Linked DNA regions of Homo sapiens. The protein of the gene in region 3 interacts with the protein of the main gene of each other region in a pairwise test. Each region holds a gene or a part of one and is shown on either strand. Other genes may lie near its edges.

What was found.
Region 1: the proteins of RNF41 (region 3) and ENOPH1 interact in binary tests that used the Homo sapiens proteins (3 or more experiments, as listed by UniProt).
Region 2: the proteins of RNF41 (region 3) and UBE2K interact in binary tests that used the Homo sapiens proteins (3 or more experiments, as listed by UniProt).

The regions. Positions count from the first base shown.
Region 1 is NC_000004.12:82,437,042-82,440,691, reverse strand, and holds part of ENOPH1 (enolase-phosphatase E1), read right to left. Parts: intron 1-3,650. UniProt on the Homo sapiens protein: Bifunctional enzyme that catalyzes the enolization of 2,3-diketo-5-methylthiopentyl-1-phosphate (DK-MTP-1-P) into the intermediate 2-hydroxy-3-keto-5-methylthiopentenyl-1-phosphate (HK-MTPenyl-1-P), which is then dephosphorylated to form the acireductone 1,2-dihydroxy-3-keto-5-methylthiopentene (DHK-MTPene).
Region 2 is NC_000004.12:39,771,085-39,774,734, reverse strand, and holds part of UBE2K (ubiquitin-conjugating enzyme E2 K), read right to left. Parts: exon of another isoform or gene 3,036-3,650; intron 1-3,035. UniProt on the Homo sapiens protein: Accepts ubiquitin from the E1 complex and catalyzes its covalent attachment to other proteins. In vitro, in the presence or in the absence of BRCA1-BARD1 E3 ubiquitin-protein ligase complex, catalyzes the synthesis of 'Lys-48'-linked polyubiquitin chains.
Region 3 is NC_000012.12:56,215,386-56,219,035, reverse strand, and holds part of RNF41 (E3 ubiquitin-protein ligase NRDP1), read left to right. Parts: intron 1-2,422; 5' UTR 2,423-2,607; intron 2,608-3,650. UniProt on the Homo sapiens protein: Acts as E3 ubiquitin-protein ligase and regulates the degradation of target proteins. Polyubiquitinates MYD88. Negatively regulates MYD88-dependent production of pro-inflammatory cytokines.

The DNA.
Region 1 (3,650 bases), on a different chromosome or scaffold from region 3:
ACAAGAGGGCTAGTAATTGGAGTAAGGTTTTAAGAAGCAGCACAAAAGAAACAGAGTATCTCCAATGAGTTCCAGAAAGGGAACTTGACTGGCCCAGAGTCCTAGTCCTTAACAGTGGAGGGGAAAGGAAGGCATTCACATTCATCTCCTTGAATCTGCCTAACATCCCTGCAAAGTAAGCCTTCTTTCATAGAGGAAGACACTGAGGTTCAAAGAGGTTTCGCTGCTGGTGCAGAGTAAAGCCAGGACTCAAACCCAGGCCTATCAAATCCCAACACCTGAAGCCATCCAGCTCTCACGGGTGAATGACTTCAAGGAGCACTACTCACCAGGATCATCTAACTCCCTGGATCTTGACAGCATATTCTCTATGGAAATTTCTAATATAGCTTTGATTCCCCAAAGAGGTTTCATACAAAGAAAATGAGAGATTATGGTTCACCCAGTAGTTCTGTAACATTTCCTATAAAGTATCAGCAATAATAATTCAAGTAGTTATAGTAATGGGAGTAACTGCCAACATTTACTGAGCACTTACTATGACAAACACTTCTCTTTTCTATCTATAATCACTCCTTTGTGATCTTACCTAATTCCATGACTTTAAATACCATTTATACTAATGATCCCCAAATCCTTACCTTTAGCTTGGACCTTTTCCAAATGCCTACCCAATATCCCCACTTGCATGTCTATTCAGTATCTCAAACTAAACACATCTGAAACCAAACTCTTGATTCCATCCCTTAATCCTCCTCCTCCCCCTACATCTCCACATCACAGTAAATGACAGAACCATCCTTCCAGATGCTCAGGCCAAAAACCTTAGAGTCATCTTTGACTCCTCTTTCTCTCAAACTCCACATCCAACCAATCCATCAGCAAATCCCATCAGCTCTACCTTCAAAATATATTCAGATCCAATCACTTCTCACCACTGCCACCACCAAGCACTCAAAATTTACTCAACTTACTGATAATGTCATTTTAATCTTCATAATAACCCTGTGAAATTGGTGCTACTACTTCCTCCATTTTTCAGAGGCACATAAAGGTTAAGTACAAATTAACAAACTGAGATTATAGTTTACCAATCAGGTCTTTCTTTTTGAGTTTATAGAGTCAGATGCCTGGAATCTCCCCAGTATCAGATCGGGGGTAAAGATCCCACTCTTTACCCCCATCAAAGGGATCTAATTACCTTCCTGAACTTACAACGACTTGGACCCATACAAGACCAGTCCAGAGAGAGCTGGAGTAAGTATACACAAGCTTAACTGTCAAACACTGGTCTGATTGTGAGCTCCAAAGTCCCACCAAGGTCTCAATGCTGAAATTACCATTAGTTTCCAAACCGCATGCCTTAGTTTCTCTTTACTCAGTAAAGGGGTACCAGGTCCACACTTTTTAGACTTAAGAAAAGGAACTTGTTAGAAGGTCACATCATGAATCACTGGAAAGAAAATCAAGCTAAGAAATGAACCCCTCATGCACATACCTAGAAGGCAAACAACCCCTTTCTGTCCTAAAGACATTCTGTCTTTGAAAAGAAACCCATTTTCCTGAAATGGTATCACCTGGGAAAGGTCCAGAGAGGATCCAGGAGGGCCTCTGAGGATAAAGCTACCAACTTTCCACACGACTCTTTAGTGAGCTGATGGGAAAATGGGTGCAATAGGATTAGGGCAGGTTGGTTTCCACTCCTCTTCTGACCTGCACCTCCAACAAAACCAGTTTTGAAAATCAAATGAGTTGATAAATGTGAAATTCAAAGTTTCATATAAAAATAACCTTTTATTGTAAAAAAGAATACTTTGTTTTCTTTAGTGGAGTGGTAACACAGGGTAAGCTGCAAGGATAGAAAATTTTAAGACCCATCAGACAAAGAAGAAGTAAGCACTTTTCAGGGCTAAACACAGGGTATCATTTTAAAAGTCTGTATGAGCAAGATAAAATCCAGCCTATGTATTTAAAATATAGGGGTTATAGCTTAAAATCAGTGCCCCTTTTAAAAATTGTTATTTTTTCGATCACGCCACTGCATTCCAGCTCTGTCACCCAGGCTGCATGCAGTGCAGTGGCACAATCACACCTCACCACAGTCTCTACCTCCTGGGCTCAAGTGATCCTCCCACCTCAGCCTCCTGAGTAGCTGGGATTACAGGTGCACATCACCATGTCCAGCCAATTTTTTATTTTTTGTAGAGATGGGGTCTCCCTATGTTGCCCAGGCTGGTCTTGAACTCCTGGACTCAAGTAATCTCCTTGCCATGGCCTTCCAAAGTGCTGGGATTACAGGTGTGAGCCACCATGCCCAACCCCTTTTACTCAATAAGTCTGACTACATATCTTTCAAAGATCTGTATGACTTTACTGTGTACCTAGGGAAAAAAACAGAAGGAATATTCACCAAACTCTTAATGGTCACCTCTGGATGGCAGGAGCATATCAGGGCTTTCACTCTCTATATCATACTCTTCTTTGTCTGCAATTTTATAATCAGGGCGAACTAATTTTCTAGGAAGAATATTTGGGGGGGTAGAAAAACCTTTCCTCTAGTCTTACATTAACAGATGCAAGTTTCTATAAATAACATATTTCACTTTTTATCTTAATTTTGTTAATAAAATTTTCTCTTTTATGACATTTAATTTCCATTATCAGCTGGTTTCATCCTCTATAACTTGTAGGTTTTGGAAATGTTGAGTCAATGAATTCTAATGCCACTCTAGAAACACTTTCAGTTAAATTGTTCAAATATAATAGAGTACCACCTTGAGGAAATCTGAAATAGCAAGGATTGCAGAGTATGGAAGAAACTGAATCCCAGTCCCTCCCACACCCATTCCGGAATGCATATCACCATCACCCAGCATGTTACAGCATGCCTGATGTGTAAGCACTGTGTGAGGCTCTGGTCTCTGCCCTTGAGGAGCCTTCCACACAGCTTGAAAAAGAGGACACACATCCAACATCACAAGTCAGCTATTGGCTCCAGTAGCAAATACTACACATGGTACTGACAATGAGTTCAGAGGACGAAGAGAAAGGACTTTGAAATTCCTGCTTAAATAGGTCCTTTACAAGAAGAGGTAGCTCTTACTTCCATATTCCCACAGCTTAGCACAATAAGTAATTTTTTTTTAAGTTAATGAGTGCATGGGACCCACACTTGGAGACGAAAAGGTATGACATTCCAAGCTGGAAGAATGGTGGCAGCAAGAAAGGGCATGATTGGAATGTGCATGTTCAGCTATGTAAAGTGTAAAGAGAGGGATAGAAAGTTGGAAAACCCAATTTGTTGAACTCTCATCTCACAGCCAGTGAGAGACTACAGAGGACTTTGATTATGCAAAGGCGACCTATTTATGTAACTGTCTTCCTTTCTAGGTTCCCTGAGGAACCTGAGGGTGACAGCTGGGTCTTAAGGACTCTGGATCCCTACCATATCCTGGAACATGACAGGTATTCAATTAAATGTGAGGGAAAGGAAAGAAGGATTGATTAGGCTGGAAAGATTATGCTAATGCCACAATACTGAAGGTTCTAGAAAAATAAGGAACCAGAAATCAAAGTGAGAGGTGCTTTCTTTTTTTATAATTTTTTTTTAAGACAGGGTCTTGCTATGTTGCCCAGGCTGGTCTGAAACT
Region 2 (3,650 bases), on a different chromosome or scaffold from region 3:
TACTTAGATCTTTATCTTAATTATATAGTTAAGTCATAGACATTTATAATTATGTATCTGCCTATCATATATTTTCTTCCTTACTTTACAATTTGCCTATTTCTTTTTTCTTTTTTTCCCCTGAGACGGAGTCTGGCTCTGTCGCCCAGGCTGGAGTGCAGTGGTATAGTCTCGGTTCACTGCAAGCTCCGCCTCCCGGGTTCACGCCATTCTCCTGCCTCAGCCTTCAGAGTAGCTGAGACTACAGGGGCCCGCCTTAACGCCCAGCTAATTTTTTGTATTTTTTTTTTTAGTAGAGACGGGGTTTCACAGTGTTAGCCAGGATGGTCTCGATCTCCTGACCTCGTAATCCGCCCGCCTTGGCCTCCCAATGTGCTGGGATTACAGGCATGAAAAACCACCTGCGCCCGGCCTTTTTTCTTTTTTTTAATGACAGTGTCTTGCTCTGCCGCTCAGGCTGGAGTGGGCAGTGGCACTATCTTGTCTCACTGCAACCTCCGCCTCCTGGGCTCAAGCGATTCTCCTGCCTCAGCCTCACGAGTAGCTGGGACTACAGGCACACACCACCACACCCAGCATTTTTTTTGTTTTTCCTTTTTTCGTAAAGACGGGGTTTTGCCATGTTGCCTAGGCTGGTATCGAACTTCTGAGCTCAGGTGATCCATCCACCTTGGCCTCCCAAAGGTTAGGGTTACAGGTGTGAGCTACTACACTCGGCCAGCTTTTCTATTTCTTAAGACAACTCGAATTCTGAACTGTCCTTGTTTTTCTTGTTGCCAAGATCCTTCTTGTTAGTTTAGTTTAGTTTAGTTTTGAGGCGGAGTCTCACTCTGTCGCCCAGGCTGGAGTGCAGTGGCGCGATCTCGGCTCCCTGCAAGCTCCGCCTCCCGGGTTCACGCTATTCTCCTGCCTCAGCCTCCCGAGTAGCTGGGACAACAGGCGCCCGCCACCACGCCCGGCTAATTTTTTGTATTTTTAGTAGAGACGGGGTTTCACTGTGTTAGCCAGGATGGTCTCGATCTCCTGACCTCGTGATCCGCCCGCCTCGGCCTCCCAAAGTGCTGGGATTACAGGCGTGAGCCACCGCGCCCAGCCACCTTCTTGTTAGTTTTATCCACTCACTTATTTTTCTATCCATTTCTCTAAACAAAGTTAAAGTGATAAATCATTAGTACTAATAGCATGTGAGGCTTTCTTTCAATGGCACTCTAAAAACAAGATACTATGAAACAAATATATTTTCTTTTTTCTTTTCTTTTATTTTCTTGAGATGGAGTCTCACTCTGCCGCCGAGGCTGGAGTGCAGTGGCGCGATCTCGGCTCACCGGAACCTCCACCTCCCTGGTTCAAGCAATTCTCCTGCCTCAGCCTCACAAGTAGCTGGGACTACAGGCACATGCCACCATGCCCGGCTAATTTTTTGTAGTTTTAGTAGAACAGGGTTTCACCGTGAGACACAGGATGGTCTTGATCTCCTGACCTTGTGATCCGCCCGCCTTGGCCTCCCAAAATGCTGGGATTACAGGCTTGAGCCACCGCGCCCGGCCATATTTTCAAGAAAATATGAAATCATTCCATAACATTCTGAAACAGGACAAGTTTTTTGGATTAAACTACATCACTTAATTTATGATTCTAAATGTATTTATAAGGAAAATATCTTTATAAAGCTAATATTTGTCTAAAAAATAGTATCTACCTGTCTAGCAATAATTCTTGGCATTTCTGTTAAAAAAAGTTGTCTCACTGGCTGGGCGCGGTGGCTCACACCTGTAATCCCAACACTTTGGGAGGCCAGGGCGGGCAATCATCTGAGGTCAGGAGTTCAAGACCAGCCTGGCCAACATGGTGAAACCTCATCTCTACAAAAAATGCAAAAATTAGCTGGGCGTGGTGGCATGTGCCTGTAATCCCAGCTGCTCAGGTGGCTGAGGAAGGAGAATCGCTTGAGCTCGGGAGGCGGAGGTTGCCGTGAGCCAAAATCATGCCATTGCACTCTAGCCTGGGCGACAGAGCGAGACTCCATCTCAAAAAAAAAAAAAAGTTGCTTTATCAATTAATAGAGGTATGTATAAATATGTGGACATATTAAAAATGTTACATGTAAAGAGAATGCCCATTTTTACCATGTAAATTAGATCATTCTTCTTTTTTTCTTTTTTTGAGATAGGGTCTCACGCTGCCTAGGCTAAAGTGCAGTGGTACAATCAAGGCTCACTGTAGCCTTGACCTCTTTGGCTCAGGTGATTCTCATACCTCAGCCTCCTGAGTAGCTGGGACTACAGGTGCACACCACCACGCCCAGCTAATTAAAAACAATTTTTTTTTTTTTTTTTTGGTAGAGACAGGGTTTCACCATGTTACCCAGGCTGGTCTTGAACTCCTGAGCTCAAGCAGTCCTCCCACCTCAGCCCCCGAAAGTGATGGGATTATAGGTGTGAGCCACGACAACTAGCCAATTACTCTAAACCAGCCTTTTTCAACTGGGTTCCTGATTTGAACCACAAAATAGAAAAAATTAGTGACTGTTTTCTCAATTTTCCCAAGTTTGGTACATAAATAGTACTTCCCTAGATGCCTACGATAAAAGTTAATTTAGGCTGGGTGCAGTGGCTGACGCCTGTAATCCCAGCATTTAGGAAGGCCGAGGCAGGCAGATCACTTGAGGCCAGGAGTTTGAGACCAGCCTGGGCAACATGGCGAAACACTGTCTGCCAAAAATACAAAAATTAGCCAGATGTGGTGGCACATGCTTGTAATCCCAGTTACTTGAGGGGCTGAGGCAGGAATCGCTCGAACCTGGGAGGCGAAGGTTATAGTGAGTCCAGATGGCGCCACCGCACTCCAGCCTGAGGGAGACAGCCAGACTGTCTCCTACACCTCCACCCCTAGCCAAAAAGTTAAGTTATTGCCAACAACCAACAATGGATGTCTTAAAGCAATGATCTCAGTGTTGTTCATCCAACCAGCAGCATCAGCATCCCTTGGGAAGTTTTCTCTATCCCAGAGCTACTGAATCAGAAACTCCAGGGTTTGAGTCCTAGCCGACGCCGTCGCCGCGCGCGCGAGGCCTGGAACACACCGCACGAGCCGCTCCCGCCCCTACCCCTTTACGCCCACGTGGAGCCGGCCCCGCCAGCGCGAGCGCGCCCTATACACCCTCCCGCCCTGCGCCTACATGCTGCCCTGGCTCTGCCCGTGTGTGGGGGGCGCTTCCGGCCCCGCGGGGGTGGGGAAAATAGGGGATTAAAAAAAAACAGCGCGCGGAACCGGGCCAGGGTTGCCCACCCCCGCCACAATGGCCTCTGGGGTGAAGTCCTGCGCTTCCAGCTGCCCGGCCACTAGGCCGCTACGCTACGGAACATGAACAAGCTCCGGGCAGAGGAGTGGTTCTGCGACGTGACCATTGTGGCCGACAGCCTCAAGTTTCGAGGCCACAAGGTCATCTTAGCCGCCTGCTCACCGTTCCTGCGGGACCAGTTCCTGCTTAACCCCAGCTCGGAGCTGCAGGTCTCCCTGATGCACAGTGCACGCATCGTGGCCGACCTGCTTCTCTCCTGCTACACGGGCACCCTGGAATTCGCTGTTAGGGACATCGTCAACTATCTTACAGCCACCTCCTACCTGCAGATGGAGCACGTGGTGGAGAA
Region 3 (3,650 bases):
GGAAGACTCCATCTCAAAAAAAAAAAGAAAAATAGGCCAAGCATGGTGGCTCACGCCTATAATCCCAGCACTTTGGGAGGCCGAGGCGGGCGGATCACAAGGTCAGGAGATTGAGACCATCCTGGCCAACATGGTGAAACCCCGTCTCTACTAAAAATACAAAAATTAGCTCAGCATGGTGGCACATGCCTGTAGTCCCAGCTACTTGGGAGGATGAGGCAGGAGAATCGCTTGAACCCGGGAGGCAGAGGTTGCAGTGAGCCAAGATCGTGCCACTGTACTCCAGCCTGGCGACAGAGCAACACTTTGTCTCAAAAAAAAAATAACATATATATATATAATAAATATGTATATATTATATATACCTTATATTAATATATAAGGCAGGTATCATTTTCCCTACTTGACAGTTGAAGCAACAGAAAAACTACAGCAGGGTTACTTGACTTGTTTAAATGTGTAGATTTGGGGGTGGGCGCAGTGGCTGGTGCCTGTAATCCCAGCACTTCGGGAGGCTGAGGTGGGAGGATTGCTGGAGCCTGCCCAGGAGTTCAAGACCAGCCTGGGCAACATGGCAAAACCCCATCTCTACCAAAAATACAAAAATTAGCCAGGCATGGTGGTGTGTGCCTGTGGTCCCAGCTATTTGGGAGACTGAGGTGGGAGGATTGCTGGAGCCTGCTGGGAAGGCGAGGCTGTAGTGAGCTATGATCATGCCACTGTACTCCAGCCTGGGCAATAGAGCAAGACCCTATCTCAAAAAAATAATAATAATTTATGTGGGCCAGGCGCGGTGGCTCACACTTGTAATCCCAGCATTTTGGGAGGCTGAGGCGGGTGGATCACCTGAGGTCAGGAGTTCGAGACCAGCCTGGCCAACATGGTGAAACCCCGTCTCTACTAAAAATACAAAAATTAGCCGGGCATGGTGGTGGGTGCCTGTAATCCTAGCTACTCTGGAGGCTGAGGTAGGAGAATCACTTGAACTCGGGAGGCCAAGGCTTCAGTGAGCCAAGATCGCGCCATTGCACTCTAGCCTAGGTGACAGAGCGAGACTCTATCTCGAAATAATAATAATAATTTATGTGAAAGCACTTTGGAAACATTAAAGCAGCATCCCCAGCCTTTTTGTGGAAGATAGTTTTTCCACAGATGGTGGGCGAGGGGATGGTTTTGTGATGGAACTCTACCACCTCAGATCATCAGGCATTAGATTCTCATAGGGAGTGGGCAACCTAGATCCCTCGCATGGGCAGTTCACAATAGGGTTCATGCTCCAATGAGAATCAAATGCCGCTGCTGATCTGACAGGACATGGAGCACAGGCCTTAATGCTCGCTTGTTTCCTGCTCACCTCCTGCTGTACGACCCGGTTCCTGATAGGCCACAGTCTGGTACTGGTCCATCTGGGGATTTGGGGACCTCTGCATTAAAGCATCATCCTGTACACATAATGTATTATGGATCTATGCATTTTGCTTTTTTTTTGAGTCAGAGTCTTGCTCTGTCGCCTAGGCTGGAGTGCAGTGGCGCGATCTTGGCTCACTGCAACCTCCGCCTCCTGGGTTCAAGCAATTCTCCCTGCCTCAGCCTCCTGAGTAGCTGGGATTACAGGCATCTGCCACCATACCCGGCTAATTTTTATATTTTTAGTAGAGATGGGGTTTCGCCATGTTGGCCAGGCTCATCTCCGACTCCTGACCTCAGGTGATCCACCCGCCTCGGCCTCCCAAAGTGCTGGGATCACAGGCGTGAGCCATCGCAACCTGGATCTATGCATTTTGTAGTCACAGATTTGGAATCATTATTACTGGTAGTTATGTGCACTGAATAAAAGAATCTTAAATCTCCAACAACTCCTCTACTTTTCCTCTTGTCTTTTTTTTTTTTTTTTTTAAGACGGAGTCTTGCTGTGTCGCCCAGGCTGGAGTGCGGTGGCGCGGTCTCGGCTCACTGCAAGCTGCAGCTCCTAGGTTCACGCCATTCTCCTGCCTCAGCCTCCCGAGTAGCTGGGACTACAGGCGCCTGCCACCTCGCCCAGCTAATTTTTTGTATTTTTAGTAGAGACGGGGTTTCACCGTGTTAGCCAGGACGGTCTTGATCTCCTGACCTCGTGATCCACCCGCCTTGGCCTCCCTAAGAGCTGGGATTACAGGCGTGAGCCACCACGCCCGGCCTCTCTTGTCCTTTTCTTTCCCCCTCCCAGCTATGTTCAAATCTACTGGACCCCGTGTGTGTGCTTCCTTAGCTGGTGAGCTCCCTCCTTAGAAGGTAGTCTTATTTGCCTAGCACTGAAAACTGTAGTGCTTAATGGAGTTGTCTCATCCTCCCCAACCAACTGCCAGATCCATCTGTCCAGTCTCCTTGCCAAGTGGAGGTAGTTCTCCTGACTCTCCTTTCTCTTCCTTGTTCCTATTACTAGAGTACTCCTGATTGTGACATCACATTCATCCCCTGGGCGATGGAGCTTGTCACTGGGAAGGAATACTCAGTCGGAGAATAGCCAACAAGATGGGTTACTGGGAGAATCTCTTCAGTGGCACTGAGTGGAGGCATCAGGGGGTTGGAGCCTTGTGAACAGGGAACCTGCCCCCCAACACTTGGAAGGTAAAGAGCTTTGATTCAGAATCCCATTCCAGGCCTCAACCCTCTTCTCTGTCGCTCGGGATTCCTTCTGCCCTTGAAAGTCCAGTTCTTAAAACTTCTTTCTGCAGAAAGCTTTCTGTGATTAATCTGTACCATTTGTTCTTTTTTGTATATTTACAACTTACATAAATTATTGACTTTTACTTGTTAATAATTTGCTTAATACGTTTATGTGTTTTTATGTGTTTTTTTTCCTATGTACTCATTGGGCTCAAGCCTACACCTTAGTTTGAGGACAAGGATTATGTGTTTCTTCTTTTTTTTTTTTGAGACAGAGTCTTGCTCTGTCGCCTAGGCTGGAGTGCAGTGGCATGATCTCAGCTCACTGCAACCTTCACCTCCTGGGTTCAAGCAGTTCTCCTGCCTCACCCTCCCAAGTAGCTAGGATTACAGGTGCCCACCACCATGCCCAGCTAATTTTTGTATTTTTAGTAGAGATGGGGTTTCACCATGTTGGCCAGGCTGGTCTTGAACTCCTGACCTCAGGTGATCCACCCACCTCGGCCTCCCAAAGTGCTAGGATTACAGGCGTGAGCCACTGCGCCCAGCCAGTTGTTTACTGACCTCTTCTTTGGGTTTGACCTTTGGGAGCCCAAAGAAGGGGCATGGCGCCATTGCCGCTGTTTGAGTCCTTGCTCTTTTGGACCTCTCTTTTTTTTTTTTTTTTTTTTTGAGACAGAGTCGTGCTCTGTCACTGGGCTAGAATACAGTGGTGCAATCTCGGCTCACTGCAACCTCCGCCTCCTGGGTTCAAGCGATTCTCCTGCCTCAGCCTCCCGAGTAGCTGGGACTACAGGTGCGCACCACCACGCCTGGCTAATTTTTGTATTTTTAGTAGAGACGGGGTTTCGCCATGTTGGCCAGGATGGTGTTGATCTCTTGACCTCATGATCCGTCTGCCTCAGCCTCCCAAAGTGCTGGGATTACAGGCATGAGCCACCATGCCCGGCCCTCTCTTCTCTTCTTTATCCCCATCACCACCACCACCTAAGTTCAGACTCTTA